Regions from separate parts of the Homo sapiens genome. Here regions 2, 3, 4, 5 and 6 are each linked to region 1. Evidence: fine-mapped expression QTL. A gene starts in region 1. Each other region holds a variant in brackets. All regions are shown on one strand. Distances are from middle to middle.

Region 1 (4,089 bases):
GTGACTCTGGCCCCAGATAAAGCGCAGCTAGAACAGTACTGAGATTGGAAGAGCAATAATTTCACATGGACATTAACTGTCAGAGATCTTTTTTAAAAATCATGTTTTTAAAGTACAGACTTCAACTCTATTCCCAGAAAACTGGGCCCTGCTGAATCCAGTGCTTACACAAGCTGAGAGCCAAACACAGCTTCTTCCTCTTCCAAACCCACCCACCAGCCCGCAACATCCACCATGGTAAGCATTTCCCAGGCCCAGGTCAGGACCCTTGCTTCAACTTTAGCTTGCAAAAGGCCCCTTTTTAAAGAGGCCTCTTAGCTTTCTCTCTTCCCTTGCTAATAAAACTGTTCCCTACCATCACCATGTTGCAGTAAGAGAGACCTCTCCCTTCTTCCAACCCCTCTCGGTCTATAACACAACCTACAGCAGGTTGGCCCCATCCAATCAGTCTGAATTGCTTCATGCCAAGGAAATTGCTGCTTTTATTAAAAATAAAAGCACACTAGGCAGGCGAAGGGCTGTGAAAAGTATGAGTCTGGCATAATTATGAAGGTCGAGGTTAAGGTTACCAAAAGAGACATGCAAAGATTTCCCGAAAGCCTGGGGGAATCAAGATGTATATCTACGTGAGTATAGACACACAGATGAAACACAGAGGGAATTTATGCAGCAGATCTAAATAACATCCTCTCTGATAGCGAAAAAACAAAATCAGAGCCACTCTCAAGTAATTTTTCTTTTGATTAAAAAAACAAAAAACAAAACCTAAAGCGAGAAGGAAGAGGGGCCTACTAGACTGAGTTCAAAATAACCACATTTGTTTTATGTAATTTCTGTTATCTTTGCTATAACCTGGGGACCTGATTACAGTTGGGTCAGGAAACAAATCTACTAGTGAAATCCACCAAGAGCCTTGGCCCTTGGAAAAACACGTTCACGTTCTCCGAAAATCCTCTCTTCCTTCCAATGCCTGCTCATGGAAGTGGGAAAGTTGGGTAGGAGAAGGAGAAACCCCTCTCTTCTTAAAAGTCCCCCCACCCTTCAGCCTTCACATCAAGATTTTAAGTTTTAGGAGGATGACAAGCCCATCACCCTGCCTTTGGCATAAAGCTTTACACTTTCACACATACGTTTTCTTGTGTGATCCTCAAAATTTGGCTTCTCAATATTAAAAAAATAAAAATAAAAGGCCACTAACGTAAACAATTTCGGCAACCTCCCCACACCCCCATAAGCCCAGTCACTTTCAAATCTCAATTTTAAATCTCTCAAGGACAATGACTCACAGGGCAAGTGAAGGGGGAAGGGAGGGTCAACTGGTCAAAGCCCATTCATACATGCAACAACTAGAAACCACAGTATTGCCGCATCAGCACAAGATTTTAATTTACGGCGCATTGAGCCCCACCGTACCTTCCGCCAACACCTCGTCCACTGTGACCTGCTGTCGCCCGATGCCGAAGACTCTTCCGATGTAGCCACTGCCCAGGCCCGAGGTGCTGCCCCCTCCTCCGCTGGAGCCGGAGCCCAGGCCAGAGCCGCCCTGCTCTCGCCGGGAGTCGAAAAACTTCTTCATCTTGCGAATAGGGAGCAGCAAAGCAAAATACCGATGGTTTCTAGATTTTTTTTTTTTTTTTTTTTTTTTAAGAAAAGAGATCCAAGGATTTCTTCTCAGATTTCACCTCGGAGAGGAGCCACCCGAATCCGGCCGTGGGGGTGGGGGCTGAGGGAGGATGCCTATAGGAATATGCGTGTCAATCGCGCAGCGGGTCCCCTCCTCCTCCAGAAAGCGATTCGTGTAAGTTTAAACCTGTGATGACAGAGGAAGAAAGAGAGGATGAATCAGTAACACGCTTAAAAATTCAACCGCTGAGTCCTAGGGGGAGCAAAAGCCATCATCCTGGGGAAACGCTTCATGTATTTTCCCGGCGAGAAAAACCGTGGGGCTGAAAACGCGACCCCGGCCCCAGAACCCGGGACCCCCGAGCCGGGAGCTCGGAGAAAGGAGGGATCCGAGCTGCTCCGGCAGCGCCGACCCTCCCGGGCACTGCCTCCCGCTCCTCCCGGGTCTCCCCGCCGCCCCTCGAGGCGGCATCCTGGCAGCACCCACTTGAGACGGCTCGGCGGCCGGCGCCCTGCTACCAGCCCCGCGACATTGTCACGGCCGCCGGGCCGGCCTGCGACGCAGAGAAGAGGCGGCGCTGCAGCGAGAGCCGGGGCCGCGCTCGGCTCCCGCCCGCCCGCCAGCTGATCCCGGGAGCGCCGGGCGGAGACTGACCCGCCGCCCCTCCCCCGCGCGCGCTCCCGCCCGGCTCCATCCACCCAACCAGGAAGTGAACCGCCGCCGGAAGTGCCCCTCGGGGCGGCGCGGCGAGGGACCGGGGCCTCTCCTGCAACCGCCGTTCTGTCGCCACGGATGGGAAGGAGTCGACCGCGAGAAGAGGACTGGGGGAAGAGGGTCTCAGTGCAGACAGAGTTCTGGAAAAGACTGTTGATATCACCCGAGCCGCAGGGCAAGCTGGGAAAGGTAGCTCGGCACAGTCCGGCTGCTGGACTACAAATCCCAGCATACTCCTGGAGGAGAGGGCGAGGCGGCAGCCGTGTGGCCTCCACGGCCTCGAAGGAGATTTGTGGGGTGGCGCGTATGTGGGGACTCGGCAATTTAAACACATCCCGTGAAGAAACTGCCAACAACTAAGTTCCCCCCCCCCCCCCCCCGCTGTATGTTCCACCCTTCTGGAGCCATCTTATTTGCGGCCTGGCCTCCTGGCACAAGGGATTCTGGAGGTTGTGGTTTCCGAACGGATCGAGACTGACACCTGAAGGACGCGGCTTAACCGCTTAGCCCCTAGCGGGTCCTGTGGGTTTCCCGACGTCTCCTGGGCTGAAATGGAAGCGAGAAGTGATCGGGAACATTGTGCTGGCAGTTGGATCCGGCTGCACCGAGCGCCAGCCTTGAAATAAGTAAAACCGATGCCCTTCCGCCCCTAACCTCAAAAGCTGCTTTTGCGTCTCGATGTTATTGAGAGCCGGCTCTGCGGTCAGCTCTGAGCTAGGCGCTGTGAGAACGCTCAGTAAGACAGTGTCTCGTCTGGAAATGTACAGGCGAGATTCAAACCGAGAAACTGCCAAAGGTTGTGTGCAGGGCAGATCCTAGGATACCGGAGACCCAGCCCGTTGGCTTGACCTCAAAACTCGGGGGCTTTTCGGCCCATGCTGTCCCTTAATTCCTCCTCCTTTGCTGACGCTGTGGGTGCGCATCAAAGCCTAAACTTCACTAGCTCCCTTGCACACAAGAACACTAACCCTAACCTGACCAGTTATTTATTTTTCACTTCAAGATTCTTCCATTGATACTTACGTTTCCCTGATACCGTCCAAGTGCTGAGGGCGGGGATGGACTGTGTGATTTGCATCTGCCAAATGCAGAAAATTTGGAAGGTCAGTTGGTACACTTTTCCGACCTAGATTTCCTGATGGATGATGCTGAAGAGTGGCAAGTTGCTGCCAAAAACAAACAAAAAAACCTACCATGATTTATTAATATTATTTTTCTAACCCCTGAATATGGGTTATTGTTCATCTCTGCCCGCTTTCCCCACTCCCTAGTGCTTGTCTCAGAATTTTTTTTTCAGCGGGTATTTGAGTAGAGAAGGGTGTCCCAGGGAAAAAAATGGTTCTTGCTTTCTCTAATCTGAATATTGAGCTGAGCTGTGACTGGGTTAACAGTAGCGTTTGTTGTTGCTGCTGCTGCAGCTTGTTTCAAGTAGTGCCATTGTAATTAAACTCCGTGAAGAGATAGCATCTTTTCTTCCGGAGAGAGTCAGTGTTGTCACCTCAGTTCACGAATTCATGTAGCCACCTCCAGGGTGAAATGCAGCCCCTATTCCCTCAAACTAAGCCCACGAAGGCATGTTCTCTGCACTTTCCTTAAAAGGCCAGATTTTTGTCTGAGGAAGTTTGAAGCAGATCTTAAAATAGATGAGAAAGCTCATTTGGAATTAGACTCATTGACCCCCATTTCTCTCAGCACTTATTTGTCTTGACTGACTTTTTTAAACAAGCTGTGCTAGGTCCTAAAATCAATCT
Region 2 (4,089 bases), 50 kb before region 1:
ATCACTTTATTCTAGAGCCAACGGGGTTAAAGTTGGTTCTATAATTTTTTTTTCTTTTTTTCTTTTTCTTTTTTTTTTTTTTTGAGAGGGAGTCTCGCTCTGTCTCCCAGGCTGGAGTGCAGTGGCGTGATCTCGGCTCACTGCAACCTCTGCCTCCCAGGCTGGAGTGCAGTGGCGCAATCTCGGCTCACTACAACCTCTGCCTCCCAGGTTCAGGCGATTCTCCTGCCTCAGCCTCCTGAGTAGCTGGGATTACAGGTGCCCACCGCCACGCCTGGCTAATTTTTGTATTTTTAGCAGAGACGGGGTTTCATCATTTTGGTCAGGCTGGTCTCAAACTCCTGACCTCGTGATCCGCCCGCCTCAGCCTCCCAAAGTGCTGGGATTACAGGCGTGAGCCACTGCGCCTGGCCTGTTCTATATTTCAAACCACAAAGACCACAGCCAGTTTAATGGAGCTTAAATTGGAAAGTTGGAACAAGATGTCACCAAGGCATCTGCTGACAATTTTCCTAACACTTTTATTAATAACTCCCAGTTACCCTCTCCTGGTTCTCCTAGTCCACAGAGAGGTCAATAAGAGCAAATGAGGAAGTGAAGCAGAAGAACCAAGATCTTTCATTGCAGTTTGGAATCCAAAACTGCAACAAAAGGAAGACCGCTCCAAATTCCCAGTATCTCCAATCTCTAGACTAGAATACAATTTTCAAGAAATAGTCGACCTGAGTATTCCACTCAGCCAATGACTGGTCTCTTGTCCTGCCAGTGTTTCTTATTGGGTACTGCCTCAACTCACTTTAAGGTTTATCATACCACTGCTTCTCAAGAGAGGGTAGTTTTGGCCCAAAGAGGGCAACTGGCAATATCTGGAGACATTTCCAGTTGTCACAACTGGGGAGACAAGGGGTGCTGCTGGCATCAAGTGGGCAGAGGTCAAGGGATGCCAACATCCTAATAATGCACAGGACAGCCCCCCACAACAGCGGTCTATTCAATAAAAATGTTTGCAACTTCTGACTTAAGTGTCAAAAATAAAACTGTAAAACTGCTAAAAGAAAATTACAACTGTACTATAACTTTGGAGGTAGAGATGGTTTTCTATAAACATAACATGAAAAGAGTAACCAAAAATTTGATTCATTTCTTCCTCATTAAAATGTGAAACTTCTCTGTGGCAAATAAAACAAAACCCACAAAGTTAGTGGCAAGTGAAAAAAAGTTTCAACATCAAAAATGTTACACAAAATTCAATAAAGTTCTACCCTGAGATTCACAGTTCTACCCTGAGATTCACAGATTTGGCTTATGATAATTGGACTCATTTAACATCTCTTCTTCAAATTATGAGGCATTTCTTCACATTCATGAAGACTTACATGAATTTTGTACACTCCATGAACAAGTGAGTGTCTTAAGGCTCATCATGCCTGTGTTCTAAATAGTTGCTGTGTTAAGTTCTTCTCTTACAGAACCAGTGGTTTGCTAGTTTATAAGCCTGAATAACTTCATGCGTCACATTCCCTAAAATGCATTTTCTCATTGACTTTAGTTTCCACTGCTGCTTGCATTTTTAGTATTAAAGACTAAATTACATAAACATTAATTTAAAAGAATTATAACATCAAATATTGGCAAGAATATAGTGAAACAGAAGTGTGCTTTGATAAGATACATTGGAAGCATTCAGAAAGTAGACATCCATTGATCCAACAATTATTTTGGGACTCTGATGAAATGTAGAAGTATATATATTTAAAGATGCTTTATGCAGTGTTAATAACCAAAGTTGGAAACCTAAATATTTAGCACTAGGAAATTGACTAACTAGATTATGGTATATCCATGCAGCCTTAAAATAAACATCTATACTCAGTGATATGGAAAAATGTTCACAACATATTATTGAGTTTAAAAAAACAGGCTTTACAAAATGGTTAAGAGGGTATACTTTTTATTGTGTATTTTTACCACAAGTAAATTTTTTTTAAATAAAAAAGCAGGCTTCATGTTCTCACACATAAATTTGGTATATATATTATATAACATGTATTTTATATAATATGCAAATATATCTTATTATATACTATCTTTATACATAGAAAAGGGCTGAAGAGCTAAATACCATACTAATGTGCTAAAAGTAATTAAATCTATGGGTGATATGAGTTGTTTTATATATCTTTTCTTTCATGTTTCTAAATATTTATAATTAATGTGAATTAGTTGCAGTAAAATTTGTCAAGATAAGCTACTATTTACATCTCAGTGCTCCAAACTGTATACTGGATAAAATTCCACCTTTTCTAGTTAACTGGAGAAATCATCACAAACATTTATTACCTGTTTCTCACTCAATGCTGGGATGCCTCAGAGGCTACTAGAGTGTACAATGCTACTTCCCTCACTCATTAGGTAGCTCC[A/C]GACTGTAATCCTTTTAACTCCTCTGCCAGCTTTAACATTTCTGTCTTTGACCTTAGCGGCTCTTGCCATTGTTCTCTACTGTCAGGTTGGCGTCCTTCTCCATTTTAATGTATTGCTTTTAATTCAACAGTAAATCAAAAGTATAAGAACTCATTAATAAAAACAAGAAAGAATAAAAAGACTGAGGGAGGGGACAGGGTCTCTCCTAAGGTACAAGTTGGAATCCGCTTTTGTGAGCAATTTCTACTGCCCCCAGATTTTTCTTTGGGAAGGGGAGGGGAGGTAGTGGTATATCTCTAAATTCAAAGCTAGGTTTTAGCACAATTGTTCAACTCTCTCCACCATAACACATATATCCAAAGACATTCAAAAATAAGACATATGCCCATGGACATCTGGCACCCACATAAGGGCTCTAGTTCAAGTAGGAGGATCCTGTGGATCGTGTGTAGCCCCTTAGGGTAAGAGCTGTACCTCCACATCATTCTTTGCACTCAAGAAAACGTATCAAAATTTGAAGGACAGTCATGTTATCGTGAGGATAACTTTGAACTTATTTGTTTATATGAATGAATTTCAAAATAAATGATTTACAATTCAGTGCTTTATACTTAACCACATGACAGAGGTGTGTGGTAATACCATAGCAGAGAGCCATGTTTTCATGGTTACTACTGCCAGGAATGTGGCTACTGAAGAAATAGAACACTACTATGTCTAATTACCACAGGCCGAAAGTGAGGCCTCTTGTACCAAACAGTTAGCCAGGTTGTGAATGCAAAGAAAATGTTCTTGAAGGAATTTTTTTTAAGTGAATATAAACTCAAGGTTTTATTGTCTTCATAATAAAAGAAAAGGTAACACTTAGAACTGGATCACTTAGCCCTTTCTCTTCTTACCTCCTCCCAGTTCAGAATGCTTGCCTCTTTTAATAGCCAGCATTCTCTTAGACCTGCAGTTGGGCTCAACGCACTCAAGCCTTAGCACAATCTTCTTTGTAGTTTTAGCCTTTTTCCAGAAAATCGGCTTAGTTTGCCCACTACAGCCACTCTGCTTCCTGTCATAACGCCACTTTCCCTGGGCATACAGAGAATCCTTGCCCTTTTTACTGTGTCACTTTGTGGGGTTGGTGCTTGCCACACTTCTGACACAAGTCCAGCGGGTTTTAGGAACGTTCACCATGTTTGCGTGAGCACTATCAGCATGGAAAAAGCTAGGATTTTGTTTCTTTTTTGTTTTGTTTTGTTTGTTTTTGAGATGGAGTTTCACTCTGTTGCCCAGGCTGGAGTGCAGTGGTGTGATCTTGGCTCACTGCAACCTCTGCTTCCCAGGTTCAAGCGATTCTCCTGCCTCAGCCTCCTGAGTAGCTGGGATTACAGGCACGCACCACCACACCTGGCTAGTTGTTTTTGTATTTTTAGTAGAGACGGGGTTTCACCAAGTTGGCTAGGCTGGTCTCGAACTCATGACCTCAAGTGATCCGTCCACCTCGGCCTCCCAAAGTGTTGGGATTACAGGCGTGAGCCACTGCACCCAACCTCTTGAAGGAAATTTGAAGTGCTACATGAATGATATGGATAAAGTTTTAGTGTGCTGGATATAAGAACAAACCTGCCAAAACATTCCCTTACGCCAAAGTCTAATCTAGAGCTAGGCACCACTAACTCT
Region 3 (4,089 bases), 200 kb before region 1:
GGGGCAGCGTGGGAATCTAGAGTGGGAGAGATTAAGCTGAAGGAAGATTTTGTGGTAAGGGGTGATATTGTGGGGTTGTTAGAAGAAACATTTGTTGTATAGAAGTATTGGTGATGGCCTGGATATGGTTTTGCATGAATTAAAAAACTAAAAGGAATAAGAGAAGGAGAAAAACAGGTATTAAAGGACTAAGAATTGGGAGGACCCAGTACATCTAATTAGAGAGTGCCCAAGGAGGTTCAGCATAGCCCTGCCAGCAAAGATTATTTATTTACTTTAAGAAGGAGTTAAGAGTGGCGGTTTGGAGATAGCACCAGGAGATATCAGCTGTGATGGCTTGGAGAAACAGTGTAAACCGGCACTGTAAACAAGAGCAGGGCATTTATGTGTAGTTGAGAATGGTGAATATGAGTATGACCAGACAGAAGATAGTAGGGATGACAAGTTTTTTGGGGTACAGTCCAAGTTGGTATGGTGTCTGGAATGAGACTGGGGCCTAATAAAAAGGAACGTCTATACAGGAGCTCAAATGGGCTGTACCCTGTAGCATTCCAAGGACAGGCCCAAATTCTGAGAAAGGCAAGTGATAAAAGTATTGTCCAGTCCTTTTTAAGTTGGTGGCTGAGCTTGGTGAGTTGTGTTTTTAAAAGACCATTAGTCCATTCTACCCTTCCTGAAGACTGAGGACGGTAAGGGATATAAAGATTTCACTGAATACCAAGAGCCTGAAAAACTGCTTGGGTGATTTGACTAATAAAGGCCAGTCCGTTATCGGACTGCATAGAGGTGAGAAGGCCAAACCGAGGAATTATGTCTGACAGAAGGGAAGAAATGACTGCGGTGGCCTTCTCAGACCCTGTGGGAAAGGCCTCTACCCACCCAGTGAAAGTGTCTACCCAGACCAAGAGGTATTTTAGTTTCCTCACTGAGGCATGTGAGTAAAGTCAATTTTCCAGTCCTGGGTGGCCCCGAGCTTGATATGTAGGCCTGAGTAATCCCTGAAGAGTAGTAGAATAGCAGATGGAACACTGAGAAGTGATTTCCTTGAGGATAGATTTCTACGATGGAAAGGAAATGAGAGGTTCTAAGAGATGGGCTAGCGGCTTGTAACCTACATGGAAGAGGTTATGAAATGACAACAGAATAGAATGGGCCTGTGAGGCTGGAAGGAGACCCTTGGTCCAAGAACCATTTGCCTTGTGTGGGAAAAGATTGATAGGTGGAAGTTTCAGTTGGGGAGTAGGTGGGAGTGGCCAGATGAAAAGGAGAAAAACTGCCATGAGGGATAGAAGTTGGAACTCTAGCTGCTTTTTTAGCTACCTTATCAGCATAAGCATCATCCTGAGCAATGGGATCTGATGCCTTTTGATGGCTGCTTTTTAAGCTACCTTATCAACATACGCATTGTCCTGAGCAATGGGATCTGATGCCTTTTGATGGCCCTTGCAGTGAATGACTCCAGCCTCCTTTGGAAGTAAAGCAGCTTTGAGAAGAGTTTTTGTTAAAGAGGCATTAATAATGGAGGACCCTTGCATAGTGAGGAAATCTCTTTCAGCTCATGTAACAGCATGGTGGTGCAGGATATGGAAGGCATATTTAGAGTCAGTATAAATATTGACACATAATTCCTTTGCAAGGGTGAGGACTTGAGTTAAGGCAATGAGTTTGGCTTGCTGAGAGGTAGTGTAGTGCAGCAGAAAGTATATGCATCAGGTGTGAGGAAGAAAATAGATTTTGGAAGTTATGAGAACTGTAGAGAGTGAGTTGAGCATAGTTTGTGATTTTGAGGGCCTCTAAAAGTATTAGGGCGGTGGCAGCCACTGCACAGAGACATGATGGCCAGCCTAAAACAGTAAGGTCAAGTTGTTTGGACAAAAAGGCTATAGGGCATGGTCCTGGTCCTTGTGTAAGAATTCCAACTGCACAGCCCTGCACTTTGGCTGTGTGTAATGAAAAGGGTTGGGATGAGTCAGGGAGAGCTAACGTGGGGGCAGTCTCTAAAGCTATCTTCAAGGAATGAAAAGAGGAGTGGGGAAAGGATTTAGGATTTATGGGGTCAGCTAGGTTTCCTTTTGTGAGTTTATATAATGGTTTTGTTAGGATGGCAAAACCAGGTATCCAAAGGTGAAAGTATCCAATCATGCCTAGGAAGGAAAGGAATTGTGGTTTTGTAGAAGGTGTTAGGGTTTGAGAGATCAGTC[A/G]GACACGATCAGCAGGGAGAGCATGTGTGTTTTTATGAAGAATTATGCCAAGGTAGGTAACGGATGGAGAAGAAATTTGAGCTTTGGAGAAGGATACCCGATATCCTTTGGAGAATAAATGTTGAAAGAGCAGGAGGATGTCTTGTTGAGAAGATTCAAAGGAGGGGCTACAAAGTAGAAGGTCATCAATATATTGAATAAGGTGAGCAGCGGAGGGATGGAAAGAAAGTAAATCATGAGAAAGAGCTTGGCTGAAGTAATGAGGGCTGTCCCTGGAGCCTTGTGGCAGTACAGCCCAGGTAAGCTGCTGAGACTGATAGGTGTCAGGATCAGTCTAGGTAAAAGCAAAGAGAGGCTGGGACAAGGGGTGCAGGGGAATAGTGAAAAAAGCATCTTTAAGATCAAGAATAGAATAGAGAGTTGTGGAGGAAGGTATTGAGGACAAAAGAGTGTAAGGGTTGGGCACTACAGGGTGGATAGGCAAAACAATTTGGTTGATAAAGTGTGCATCCTGAACTAACCTGTAAGGCTTGTCCGGTTTTTGGACAGGTAAAATGGGGGAATTGTAAGGAGAGTTTATAGGCTTTAAAAGGCCATGCTGTAACAGGCAAGTGATAACAGGCTTTAATCCTTTTAAAGTGTGCTATGGGATGGGATATTGGCGTTGAGCGGGGTAAGGGTGATTAGGTTTTAATGGGATGGTAAGGGCTTGAGATCGGTTGCCATGGAGGGAGTAGAGGTATCCTATAATTGTGGGTTAAGGTGGGGAGATACGAAAGGAAGACACGAAGGAGGCTTTGAACTGGGGGAAAAGGCAGCAATGAGGTGTGGCTGTAGCCTAGGAATAGTCAGGGAAGCAGATAATTTAGTTAAAATGTCTCAGCCTAATAAGGGAACTGGGCAGGTGGGGATAACTAAAAAAGAGTGCATAAAAGAATGTTGTCCAAGTTGGCACCAGAGTTGGGGAGTTTAAGAGGTTTAGAAGCCTGGCCATCAATACCCACAACAGTTATGGGGGCAAGGGAAATAGGCCCATGAAAAGAAGGTAATGTGGAGTGGGTAGCCTCCGTGTTGATTAAGAAGGGGACGGGCTTACCTTCCACTGTGAGAGTTACCCGAAGCTTGGCATCCATGATGGTCTAGGGGGCTTCCAAGGTGATTGGGCAGCATCAGTCTTCAGCCGCTAAGCCAAGAAGATCCGGGAAGGAGTCAGAGAGCCTTGGGCCAGAGTTCCAGGGGCTCTGGGAGTGGCTGCCAGGTGAGTTGAAGAGTCCGATTTTCAGTGGGGTCCCACACAGATGGGACATGGCTAAGGAGGAATAACGGGCTGTGGGCATTCCTTGGCCCAGTGGCCAGATTTCCAGCACTTGTAGCAAGCTCCTGGGGGAGGAGGTCCTGGAGGAACACGTGGCTGCTGCGGTTCAGGCGTTTTGAAGTTTTTGTGTGCTGGAGATGTGGCTGGGGTTTCCCTCACAGTGGAGGCAAGGAATTGCAACTCAGAAATACATTGCTACTTGGCTGCCTCTACTCTATTATTGTACACCTTGAAGGTGAGGTTAATTAAGTCCTGTTTTGGGGTTTGAGGGCCGGAATTTAATTCTTGGAGCTTTATTTCTAATGACAGGAGCTGACTGGGTGATAAAATGCATATTTAGAATGAAACAGCCTTCTGACCCTTCAGTGTCTAGGGCTGTAAAGAGTCTAAGGGTTGCTGCCAAACAGGCCATGAACTGGGCTGGGTTTTTATATTTGATGAAAAAGAGCCTAAACACTAACCGATTTGGGAAAGGTCAGATAAAGGAAAGGAGCATTAACCTTGACTATGCCTTTAGCTCCAGCCACCTTTCTAAGAGGAAATTTCTGGGCAGGTTGGGGAGGGCTAGTTGCA
Region 4 (4,089 bases), 26 kb after region 1:
TATACAAAAAACTATTGAATTGTACACTTCACACAGGTAAACTGGCACGTGAATACCTCGACAAAGCTATTGAAAAAAAGAAAGAGATCCTTTTGTAGTTCATGGGCATAATGATTGGTATTCACGCACATGTGTGAGATGTGCCACACTCAAACCTTGTTATGACCTCGGCACATTACCCATCTGACCTGAAAAAAAAAAAAAGGAAAGAAAAATAAAAGTCCCATAAAAGTGTTATAGACTGATTCAGTCCGATGTACAAAATACTCTGGCCTATCTGTAGAGAACTGGACAGGATATCCTGTGATGTGATGTATGGGGATGCTGTGGCAACATTTATGTCAGTTCTTCTCTCTCTTTTTTGTCTCTTTTGTCCTTTTCTTCTCCTCTCCACATAGCATGTGATCTATTCTTTATTATCAGTTATCTATTGACCCAACAATGTGGGTAACAAAGCACCTGAAGACTCATTTTTATTGCTCCCAAGGCCATGGCAGCTGAGCCATTCTTCCTGCTTAGATGGGACTTGCTGCTGCACCCGGAATCAGCAGTTGATCTTGGCTGGGCTCTCTTGTGTATTGGGGGTTGACTGGAATTTGTGGGACTAGGATGGTCTCTGCTTTTCTCCATGTGTCTTTGCATTCCTCCATTGGGCTAGCCGGGACAAGCCGTCATGCTGAGGCAGAGATGCACTAGTGAGCATGCAGAAATGCACAGGTGCTTTTCAAGTCCCTGCTCGTCTCATGTCTGATAACATTCCATTGGCCTAAGTATGTTACCAGAGGAATGTTCAGTAACAGGAGGAAGGGACAATAAAATTACAAGGCAAAGAGTGTGGAGCCGGGTAGCCTTTAATTGGGGCCATTAATACTATGCATGGACCGGTTTATAAGTCCATGCTTATCTGTTTTATAAACTCTAGGTTGTTTACTAAAGATTATGAATTCAGTCATTTCCCCTCCAAGTGAAATTTTTTTCTATTTTTATTTGTTATTACAGAAGTATAAGGAATGAGTCAGAGAACATAGACAAGCTAAATGAAGACAAAGAAGTATGATATACGGCATGGTGGCTCATGCCTGTAATCCCAGCACTTTAGGAGGCTGAGGTGGGAGGATTGCTTGAGCCCAGGAGTTAAGACCAGCCTGGGGCAACATAGTGAGACCCTGTCTCTACAAAAAATTTTTTTAAAAAAAGTATGAATTGTCCCTTTCCTAGAGACAATCACTCTTGAGATACAGTCTTCCAGGTATTTCTCTCTACATTTGTGTATAGGTAAATATACACATATATATCTTTCTCATTATATATGTATAGACACATACATGTATGTGTATAATAAAAAATATTAATTTAGAACCGTCATTTCATCTTGATGAAGTTAGGTTTCACTGAGTGATATGTAAAACTCACCTTCTGCATGTGGAAATTCATTGTCTTCAGGCACAGCCATATTACGCTGTGTATAACTCCTGTCTGTGGAATGAGACACTTTGGCTTCTGCAGCAGGCTTGCCTTCTGGTATTCACGTGGTCAGTAATATTACCACATGTCCCACAAGATGGTAAACGCTGACACACAAATGTTATATAGTCATCATGTATTTTCTTGAGAAATTAAAATTATTTATTTAAACATATACTTTATTTCCATTCCTTTTGAGCCTTTTTTTTTTTTTCTTGAAGGCAGAGTCTCGCTCTATCACCCAGGCTGCAGTGCAGTGGTGCGATCTCGCCTCACTGCAACCTCCGCCTCTCAGGTTCAAGTGATTCTCCTGCCTCAGCCTCCCGAGTAGCTGGGATTACAGGTGTGTGCCACCACGCCGGCTAATCTGGCTAATTTTTGTATTTTTAGTAGAGATGGGGTTTCACCATTTTGGCCAGGCTGGTCTCAAACTCCTGACCTCAGGTGATCCACCCGCCTCGGCCTCCCAAAGCACTGGGATTACAGGCCTAAGCCACTGCGCCTGGCCTTCTTTGAGCCCATTTTTGTCAAACAATTTATTACCAGTATAAGGGTGTAACCAAACAAATTTTTGTTTATAAAGAATCATAAGGCCGGGCGCAGTGGCTCACGCCTGCAATCCCAACACTTTGGGAGGCAGAGGTGGGCAGATCACTGGAGGTCAGGAGTTTGAGACCAGCCTGGCCAACATGATGAATCCTTGTCTCTACTAAAAATACAAAAAATTAGCCAGGCATGGTAGTACACACCTGTAATCCCAGCTACTTGGGAAGCTGAGGCAGGAGAATTGCTTGAACCCAGG[C/A]GGCAGAGGTTGCAATGAGCCGAGATCGCGCCACTGCACTCTAGCCTGGGCGACAGAGTGAGACTCCATCTCAAAAAAAAAAAAGAATCATAGATTTTACCATACAATAAATACCAAAACCACTGTAACAAGAGTGTCCATGTACCTTCTATATTCTTTATTGCAGGACTGTTCAGCCTTTATTTCCTGCACATAGTTTATATAATCTAATCTAGAATTTCTCATGTTTCCCACTGACTCTGTTGCCTGGCTGGCCTCATCCTACTGTCTTGTATACCAAATAGTTATCAGGAGCAGGCACATCTAATACTTCTCCCACCGCTACTCAAGATTGTAAAGACTTCACCTTCCTTGCCTTATTTTACTGATAAGTGCCCAGCAGACTGCCCTTGAAAGAGACTTAATAGTTATCTTGCCTCTGGGAAGAGTTGGGGGGAAAAGTACTGATCATTACTAGTGATATTCCACTTTTAACCTTGTGTCACAAACCTGTGTTTGCTGCACACGTGTCTTATACACTAGAGACAGGGTAGGAACTGAAGCACAAAGTGAAAGTTTACCAAAATCATTCCAGCATATTATAAAGCAACTATGAATATGTGGCTAAAAAATGACAAATGGCCAGGCACGGTGGCTCATGCCTGTAATCCCAGCATTTTGGGAAGTCGAAGCAGGTGGATCACTAGAAGTCAAGAGATCAAGACCATCCTGGCCAACATGGTGAAACCCCATCTCTACTAAAAACACATAAATTAGCTGGGTGTAGTGGCACACACTTCTAGTCCCAGCTACTTGGGAGGCTGAGGCAGGAGAATTGCTTGAACCTGGGAGGTGGAGGTTGCAGTGAGCTGAGATCGCACCACTGCACTCCAGCCTGGCGACAGAGCGAGACTCAATCTCAAAAAAAAAAAAAAAAAAAAAGACAAATGAGACAAATGCTAAAATAGAGATGGCGACTGGTCCACAGTAAACTTGAAGCAAGGTCACCCTAATTATAAAGCTATAGTAACTAAGACAATGTGGCATGGGCACAGGGATAGACAACTGGCAGAATAGAGAGACCAGAAATTGACCTATGGATAAATGGAGACCTGATAGATGACATATACATGGGGAAGAGTAAATAGTACTGGAAAATTTGGTTATCTACGGAAAAAATGAAAGTGGACCCTTACCTTACATCAATCATAAAAATCAATTCAGGGTCAGGCGTGATGGCTCACACCTGTAATCCCAGCACTCTAGGAGGTTGAAACAGGGCAGACTGCTTGAGCTAAGGAGTTTGAGACCAGCCTGAGCAACATAGTGAGACCCCTGTCTCTGCCAAAAATACAAAATTTAGCCAGGCATGATGGTGCACACCAGTAGGCTCAGCTACTCAGGAAGCTGAGGTGGGAGGATCACTTGAGCCCAGGAGGTCAAGGCTGCAGTGAGCCAAGATCACACCACTGCACTCCAGCATGGGTGACAGAGTCAGACTCCATCTCAAAAAAAAAAAAAAAAAAAAAAAAGAAGGGAATACCATCAATAATCAATTCAGAATGGACCTAAAATGTGAAGAGCAAATGTTTTAAATATTTAGATAATAGAATGAGTAGAATAGCTTTATGACTTTGGGGTGGAGAAGGATTCCTTAAATAAAACACAAAAAGCACAAACCTTTAAAAAATGATAAATTTGAGACTACATTAAAATCAATAACTTTTGTTTATAAAAATACCATAAAATGCATAAAATGACAGGCTAAAACTCAATCAAAATATCTGCAACTCTAGTAACAGTAAAGTTTAGCATCCTGAATATGTAAAGAACTCCTGTGAATC
Region 5 (4,089 bases), 170 kb before region 1:
GTGGAAACAGAACTATTCAGCATCTTCATTTATACACAATTTACAATATTTGATTCAAAATAAAAATCACAAGAAAAATACATCTGTTTCTGCTACAATTCCTTCCCCTCCCCATCCTCCCCCCACCCCCGCCCCAGTGAAAAGTCTTCTAATAAAAGGTATCATATTACCACCGTCTTGTTTTGGTCTAATTCTGAGATCCCACTTGGAACAGTTAACATGAAAAGGAATGGCAATACTTGGGATTTATATAACGTACACATTGTATCCAAGGATCTCAAATACTTGCAGTCACGTCTCCAGATCTGAGAAATCACGGTTCAATGGAAGCCAGAAAGCTGGACGAATGCTGGGCAGGTTGCATGGGGTGTAAAATCCCTTGGCTAAGTCTATGATCAAACAAGGTCAAAGTTGGTTGGCTAGAGCTGGGCTCAATTTCTCTTCTCAAATATATACTACCAGTCAGTAAGTTTTACCCTTTCTTAAACCACACACCCATCTCCAGGCTACTGCCTAGAGTTAAGACCAACTGAAGTAGCCATGTCCTCATGATAATGCATCAGGATAAAAAGCAAAAACAGGGAAATACATTCATCAGCATCTGGCCAAAGGAGACGGGGGTTGGGAGAATTGATCTGGGAGGCCATTCCTAGCAAGAACGAGACAAAAGTGTCAATTCACTAGTTTCAGTTACAGTTAAGCTTTTGGTGGAGTTGATTCCAGCAGAGGTGAAGCTCATGGCATCTAGTGCTTGATTTAAGATAATGCTATTGAAGAAGGGTAATGAGAAAACACAGCAAACTAACAAGGAGGAACTGGCCAAGGAATATCTGGAGGGCCAAAGTGATTTTCTTTCCTTATCATTTCTACAGGAGAAGGCAAGGGGTAGGAGAAAAGGGCTGGAGGGCCCCTTATTTGCAGATTTTTTTAAAAAAATCATTTTTTTCATAACTCCGTAATGAAAATGTATTTTACGGTATGAAGGTTACAGAACTGCATCTGCTACTGGGTCACGGCTACAGGTCTATGAGCTGATCCACCAGCAGTAAAGACCTGGCTAGGTTGGGAAGACTGGACTCAGAGCTCCCACTGCTGTTTCTAGAGTGCCCACCTGGAAGTGGAGAGATAGGAATTCAGTACAAAACATAGAGGGTTAAGGTTTAGATGTGCAGAGCAAGCAAAGAAGAAAAACCAAACCAAAACCAAAACCAAAACAAAAAAAAACCAAAAAAACCAAACCCTAGAGAAGCAATATTTTACATTTGCAAACCCTTACACGTTGATTTTGAAACATGTAAGTTAGCTGTCCACCACCTCCCACCAAAAGCTCAGGCACTCTGTGCACACCACAGTATAGGTAGGACATCTTGCAAAGAGGGCACTATTTTCAAATCAATACTTTTTTTGGTTGAGAATTGCTGGCTATATACCAACTTCCTGATAATATCAAGCCATCTCCCTTTGATAAAGTAAAAATCAATAATTTTTGCTTTGGGGAGAAACTAGTTATTAAGATACTGCAATAAGAACATGCTTTAAAAAATAAATAGATGGTCCCATGGTAATTTAGTGTTTTATGGCATGTTCACATGATTTTCCTCCATCAAAGTTGAAAAAGGATGCTCCATTAATGTCAAAAAGATGTGAATGATACCAAAACACAGCTGTTAATCTCTTTGGGAAAAATATTTATTATGGATTATTCTAATCATGATAAAAAATGTGATGTGCTTTTGATATATACCTTCAGGTTTCCACTGACTAAAGATCATTTTGCTTTTGGCTTCATGGTAAAAACTAACTTTTGGCCAACTGTTAAAGACTTCTCTCTAAATAAACACCACGGTCAAACTTTAAAGATACCTATCTCTATCTATCTCTATTGGTCCAGCCTACAATGATTCTCATTACACCCAATGTCCTTCATTAAATGTTGATGCTTTTCTTCCCCCTTGCAGATTAGGTGCATGACTATTTTGAAGAGAACTGAGGCCAAGCTCTTCTCTTTTCCCCATCCTTTTTCTTACCTTGTGGGTTTTTGGTTATCAATACAGGAATAGGGTCAAACTCATCTTCAGCCACCTTGTCCGAGCCCTCAGGGACATCAAAACCTGAGATGAGATTACTATCTTCTGCAGCTTAATACAGAATGCAAGTACACAAGCAGAAACAACAGAGGCAGAGATTAGCAAATGAGAGAATGTGAAAGAGGCACAAAGATCTCAACTGTACAGCCCTGTTATTTTCAAAGGTGAAAGGATTTATCTTTCTGAGTTGAAATAAAAATAGCAAAACTGGAAAATACAGAGATATAGAAAAAAATGCTTTAGAGTTGGCCATGTTGACTTTTA[T/TA]AATGATTAGGGAAAAGGGTTCTTGGAAGAATTCTATTATTTATAAGACATTAATTATAATTATTGTGAGGTATCTCTTCATTGTCACTAATCCACAAAGGCATAGGAATAAGTCACTTGTCTTCACTGAGGGAACAGAGGCCAAACAATATTTGAAAAACTCAAAACCGGGGCTTGGGGGCAGGGCAGGGGAGGAGGAAGAGAATTGGTGGCTCTTTAAGAAGTAACCACTGTATATAATGCAAACAAAATACTGCTGGAAGGACTCACTGCACTGTGACTGGGAAAAAAAGACACTGAAACAACTCAGAAGCCTCAGGGAACGCTGAGGCACAAGATCACACGCACTGAGGCCTCAAGTAGAAGTTTGTTAGAATAGTCTTCTCCATTCTAATTAAAGCTACCCTAACAGCAAGCAAGTGCTGGCTGAGCACTTATTTTGCAAATGATGCTTCTCTGTAATTCTACATTGCTGCTGACATACTCCTGCCAGACATCACTGTCTAAATAGGTAACTTCCCTCTACATAATCTATAAAAACATAATCATTTTAATGTCATCACGGGTAAAAACAAAAACTCAGCTATTACCATTGCAAACCACAGAGGTGATTATTTTTAGTCATTCTGGGGAGGCTTCCTTCTTGAATTTTCTCCTGAAGGGACTTAAGCTCTTTCTTTTCTACACATTTTCTCTTTCCAGAAGACTACTTTCACTACCCAATCACAGAAAGTTCAGTAACAAAGTAAGCCAGGCATTGAGCCTGACACTGTCACAAACTGCTCATTGAATAGAATCTGATTCAAGCTACCTCTGTCCAGGATTTCAGACCACTATTAACCCAAGACTGAAAAATGAAAATAGTAGATTAGAAAGAGAAATCCAGTAACCAATCATGACTTGAAGGTGAACTAAAATTCAAAACTTCTACAAGTTCAACCTTGCAAGGACTGACTTTTGAGGAAAGATGCTTATTTCTTTATTGCAGTCATCACTATGCAATAACTTTGAATCAGATATGATAAAACCATTTTACATTCTAAGGCCAACAAGCATCATATGATCATTATAGGCAGGCAGTAGATAGTCACTTCAACCATCTACTTGAATTGACTGCAAAGGTATCTAGCTCTTAAAGGTAACATGGAATATCTGCATTCTATGTTCTTGCCAGAAAGCAATACTTTCACCAATCTGTTGTCTAGGGCTTTTTTCAGATTTAATTTTATTTATTTTTAGTACCTGTCTGCTATTTTTTTTGTTTTTTTAGACAGAGTCTTGCTCTGCTGCCCAGGCTGGAGTGCAGTGGTGCGATCATGGCTCACTGCAGCTTTGCCCTCCGGGCCTCAAGCAATCATCCCACCTCAGTCTCCCGAGAAGCTGGTACCACCGGTGCATGCTGCCATGGCTGGCTAATTAAAAAATTTTTTTGTAGAGACTGAGACTCCGTATGTTGTCCAGGCTGGTCTCAAATTCCTAGGCTCAAGTGATCCTCCCACCTCAGCCTCCCAAAGTGCTGGGATTGCAGGCCTGAGCTACCACAACTGGCCGGTCGTCTAAGTCTTAGTAAATATTCTCACTGAGAGGTATTATAACACAGTATCTAGGAGATACTCAAGTTTTCCATACAAGGAGGTAGTTTTAAAACTTCACTAGTAAAGACTTTTGATAAGAAAAACTTTCAAAAGTTGTTTAGTTCTTTCCCCTCTAAGGACACATGTGGGCCTGAGAAGAAGAA
Region 6 (4,089 bases), 57 kb before region 1:
GCGACTGGTCTCAGTAAGATCCCAGGTCAGCATCAAGTCTTTGAACTCCCTCAACCTTCAACCCCAGGCACTCAGAGACCTCGATTACTCACCAGGAAATCTAAAGCCTTCCACCTCACTTCCAGTGCAGCATCCCCACTCTGGTCTCCCTCCTTCTCCTAGAGCTTTCCACACTCTAAAAATCACTGTTCCCTTTGCCCAACAACTACACTGCCTTTCTTACCAATCTGTTTTTAGGGATCCTGGGTCTCATACCCATCTCATATCTGTATGAATAGTCTACAGTGAAGAAAAGTCATCTACATACATGTTCCCATTTCCTCATCACAATAAACCCAAATTATCATTTTGTAGATTCAAAAACTGAGGTCCAGATAAGTGTTATCCAAAAAAACTACATAAAAATTCAAGCTTTAATCGAGGATTATAAGAAGAGACTATTCTATGAAAAGGAGAGATCTATAATCTCCAATTGGCATAACATATAAGAGATATTCTTTTTTAAATTAATTTTTTGTAGAGATGGGGTCTCACTTTGTTGCCCAGGCTGGTTTCAAATCCCTGGCTTCAAGCAATCCTCCTGGCCCGGCCTCCCAAAGTATTGGGACTACAGGTGTGAGCCACTGCGCCCAGCCAGGAGATATTCTTAAGCTAGAGGTCCATGTCCCCACACCACCCCAACTCCCCAAGGACCTCTGGTTAACATTTATGCTTCGGCACTGAGTTTTCCAAGTTCTGACCCTGGACTGGGACAGTAGTTATGTTGGCCCCTGGTTCCAATGGGCTGGCCTAGGAGCTTGGTGCCTGTCATCACTGCAATTCTCAGACTCCAATACCTAACGCTACCCTCCTCTCCAGAGTCCTGTCCAAAGTCCTGTATCTCTCCTGCATCGTTAAAGGCAGCCTTGAGTTCTAAAACCTACTGAAAAATACCAGAAACCAAATTTAAGAATCACTTACCCAAAAAGTATGTTTGGACTAGATCAAAAGTTTTACATATGATGTGGCATATGGTACTAGGAAAAGAGGATGACCTTTCAGTCAGTAGTTTCCAGGGTTTGATTTCTAGCAATGAAACTTGTTTACATAAACTTGAGAAAGTTACTTAACTTCTTTAAGCCTCAGTTATTATCCATATTTTACAGATGTGGAAACTTTCTCCCCCAAAGCTATTGAAAAGCACTAAAGAAAAAAATATACAAAAATTGGCCTAGCACAGTGCTGGGCAAACAACTCTTCCCTCCACCTTCCCTCTGGCACCACCCTCTGCCTGATTGGTGCGGAGTGCTCCCTGCCCTCCGCACGTCACTGCCCCAAGGGGTCTGGGAAAAACTCCGAAAAATATGCAGTCTACAAGAACACTGTGAGATGAACCGGAGGATTATGAACTCATTAAAAAGAATAGCAAAGAGATCAGGGTGACCACCAGTGGGGCAGGTTTTGTCTAAGCACTGCATTTCTAAAATAATCATTATGCAGCTTTTTCAGGCCTTTTCCAGGTGAGATGCTTAAAAATGAACTGAGAACAAAGCAGTCAACTGAAAACCTGTGGGCCTATGAACCTAAGGCAAAGTGGGTGGTTGAATACCAGGCTGGTAATGAGGCAGAAAGGCAGGCAGGGGACTTTTGGCACAAGGTAACCATGGGCTTTGGAGGCAACTTACCACAGTGTTGAGGAACCATTTACAGAGCTTCAGGAGCTCAAAGAGGGCCTGGCAATGACAATATTCAAAAGGCTTAAAAACACAAAAGACGTCAGGAAACCTGGGTTCCAATTGTGGCTCTGCATTAACCAGCTATGTGATCTTAGGCTAAAAACTCTTCAAAGACAAGGAAAGTATTTTTCTTTGCATT[G/T]TCTGAATCACCTAGAATAACAAAGTCAATGCTCGGTAACTACTGAATGAAGGAGTGTCTGGCTTCTGAGATCTCTGGGCCTTAGTTTTCTCTCCTATATCACAAAAGAGTTGGAAAGATTATCCCTAGGGCCACTCCCGGGCTCACATTCATTCCATTGTTCTTTAGACACAGAAAAGTTTCTCAATTCTAACAGCACATCAGAATCACCTTGGAAGTTTTTAAAAAGATAATTCTCCAGTTTCCCAGCTGGAACATACTGAGATTCAAAATCCTTAGGGTGGTGGGTTTGGGTCGGGCGGAGGGTAAAATCTGCACAGGTGAGCCTAATAGGCAGTTAGCTGTGAGAACCAATGCACCATGCTTTCAAATGCAGTAATCTTCTAATCTTCAAGGAACAAGGGACTTGAGGCTGGGTCCTTCTTCCATATCTTCTGCCTTTCTGCCCAAATCAGCAGCTTTCATTTTCTAAAGCAAACCTGCCTCATTTCTTTTCTTTAAAAAAAAACTTTTTTTTTTTTAAAGACAGGGTCTTGTTCTGTTGCCCAGGCTGGAGTACGATGGCATGCTGACAGCTCGCTGCAGCCTCGACCTCCTGGGCTCAAGCAATCCTTCCATCTCAGCCTCTCGAATAGCTAGGACTACAGGGGCTTGCCACCATGCTCAGCTTATATATATATACACATGTGTATATATACACACATGTATACACACGTATATACGCATGTATATATACGCACATATATACACATATGCGTGCACACACACATATATACACATATGCGTGTACACACACATATATACACACACGTGTGTACATATATACACATGTGTATATATACACATATATATACATATGTGTATATGTATATATGTGTGTGTATATATATATATATATTTTTTTGATGTCGTTTCGCTCTTGTTGCCCAGGCTGGAGTGCAGTGGCGGGATCTCGGCTCACTGCAACCTCCGCCTCTTGGGTTCAAGTGATTCTCCTGTCTCAGCCTCCCAAGTAGCTGGTATTACAGGGGCATGCCACCATGCCCAGCTAATTTTTGTATTTTTAGTAGAGACTGGGTTTCGCCATGTTAGCCAGACTGGTCTTGAACTCCTGACCTCAGGTGATCCACCTGCCTCAGCCTCCCAAAGTGCTGAGATTACAGGTGTAAGCCACTGCACCCAGTTGCCCAGCTAATATTTTTAAATTTTTTTGTAGAGACAGAGTTTTACTATGTTGCTCAGGCTGGTCTTGAACTCCTGGGCTCAAGTGATCTTCCTACCTTGGCCTCCCAAAATGTTGGGAGTTACAAGCATAAGCCACCATGCCAGGCCTCATTTCTTTTTTCTTTTTTTTAAATTTTTTGTAGAGACAAGGTCTCACTATGTTGTCCAGGCTGGTCTTGAACCCCTGGCCTCAAGCGATCCTCCTACCTCAGCCTCCCTAAAGTGCTGGGATTACAGGCATGAGCTACCATGCCCAGCCAAACCTGCTTCATTTCTAAGGAGCAAGACTTTGGAGTTAGATAAGGGTTCAAATCCCACAGCCAACACTCCATAGTAACGTGACCTGAGTTCACATATAACATGAGCAACCATCCCCTGTTCCACAGAGGTTATTGTGAAGATTATGTGAGACAGCATCATAAAGCACCCGGCACACATCTAAACACAGAAGCTCTTAACAAATGTTCATCCCTGTCTCCTCCACCCCCTTCTTTCCTAAGTAAGGCCCATCAGGTGGGTACCTGACATCACCTGCACCTTCAGAAAAACTCTAGTTATGGGAACTTTTGCTGATATAGGACATGCTCCACTTTCAGTATTTGTCACGGACATCAGTTTCCCCATCCCTTATAGTAAGAAAGAAGAGTAAACCCATTCCCTTAACTAAGAACTCCCTCTCTGTTATAACGGTTTGTTTCAGCAGTAGATGGCTACAGGTGACGCAGGTATCCAGAAATCCTGCCCTCCAAATGATCAAAGCAGGCCTAGTCCTGGATGCCTGTGACATCTGAGTGTATCTGAAACCATCTGTGGGTGCTAAGCTAATTGCATCATTTTGTTACTCCTCAGTTCTTACATTTGTTTTATACTTGCTACCACAGCTACATGATTTTTTTTTTCTTTTTTTAATGGAGGTTTTTATGATGTCTCCTTTAAACAGGCTGGTCTTATTGAGTTCCTCTGCATTATTTATTTTTATCCAATGGCACATGTGATCTGTGGATCAAGGTT

Direction of the effects. Alleles are on the strand shown, and positions count from the first base shown. SD is a standard deviation of normalised expression in the study named. Not every link is listed here.
In carriers of allele C in region 2, the expression in thyroid of the gene that starts at base 2,275 in region 1 tends to be lower than with A alone (moderate effect, 0.47 SD a copy in GTEx).
In carriers of allele A in region 3, the expression in tibial artery of the gene that starts at base 2,275 in region 1 tends to be higher than with G alone (small effect, 0.24 SD a copy in GTEx).
For the expression in skeletal muscle of the gene that starts at base 2,275 in region 1, T is the high allele of the variant in region 5 and TA is the other (small effect, 0.15 SD a copy in GTEx).

What was found. PIP is the estimated chance that this variant, and not a neighbour inherited with it, causes the effect. A credible set is the group of variants that fine-mapping cannot tell apart.
Region 2: its variant is the best candidate, but not a certain one, in a credible set for the expression of AAK1 in thyroid (GTEx, PIP 0.68).
Region 3: its variant is the best candidate, but not a certain one, in a credible set for the expression of AAK1 in tibial artery (GTEx, PIP 0.55).
Region 4: its variant is the best candidate, but not a certain one, in a credible set for the expression of AAK1 in whole blood (TOPMed, PIP 0.53).
Region 5: its variant is the best candidate, but not a certain one, in a credible set for the expression of AAK1 in skeletal muscle (GTEx, PIP 0.51).
Region 6: its variant is the best candidate, but not a certain one, in a credible set for the expression of AAK1 in nasal epithelium (TOPMed, PIP 0.84).

The regions. Positions count from the first base shown.
Region 1 is chr2:69,641,465-69,645,553 of GRCh38, forward strand. It overlaps AAK1 (AP2 associated kinase 1), which reads right to left and starts at 2,275. Exons shown (of 22, transcript NM_014911.5): 1 at 2,111-2,275; 2 at 1,414-1,810. The coding sequence starts at 1,576. It also overlaps a transcript of ANXA4 not described here. RefSeq lists a silencer at 2,024-2,353 and enhancers at 2,434-2,703, 3,459-4,061.
Region 2 is chr2:69,591,456-69,595,544 of GRCh38, forward strand. The region is part of intron 2 of AAK1 (AP2 associated kinase 1); the gene reads right to left. It also overlaps the pseudogene RPL36AP16. Among named protein-coding and RNA genes, the nearest start is that of AAK1, 50 kb to the right of the region's middle. The variant A/C (reference allele first, on the strand shown) is at 2,421.
Region 3 is chr2:69,443,538-69,447,626 of GRCh38, forward strand. No RefSeq gene overlaps it. Among named protein-coding and RNA genes, the nearest start is that of NFU1, 8.1 kb to the left of the region's middle. RefSeq lists an enhancer at 1,155-1,711. The variant A/G (reference allele first, on the strand shown) is at 2,202.
Region 4 is chr2:69,667,273-69,671,361 of GRCh38, forward strand. It overlaps LOC124906149 (small nucleolar RNA U13), which reads left to right and starts at 87; the gene lies at 87-189. It also overlaps a transcript of ANXA4 not described here. The variant C/A (reference allele first, on the strand shown) is at 2,267.
Region 5 is chr2:69,474,853-69,478,941 of GRCh38, forward strand. It overlaps AAK1 (AP2 associated kinase 1), which reads right to left. Exons shown (of 22, transcript NM_014911.5): 21 at 2,028-2,138; 22 at 1-1,111. The coding sequence ends at 1,017. Among named protein-coding and RNA genes, the nearest start is that of NFU1, 39 kb to the left of the region's middle. The variant T/TA (reference allele first, on the strand shown) is at 2,352.
Region 6 is chr2:69,584,727-69,588,815 of GRCh38, forward strand. All of the region lies in intron 2 of AAK1 (AP2 associated kinase 1), which reads right to left. Among named protein-coding and RNA genes, the nearest start is that of AAK1, 57 kb to the right of the region's middle. The variant G/T (reference allele first, on the strand shown) is at 1,855.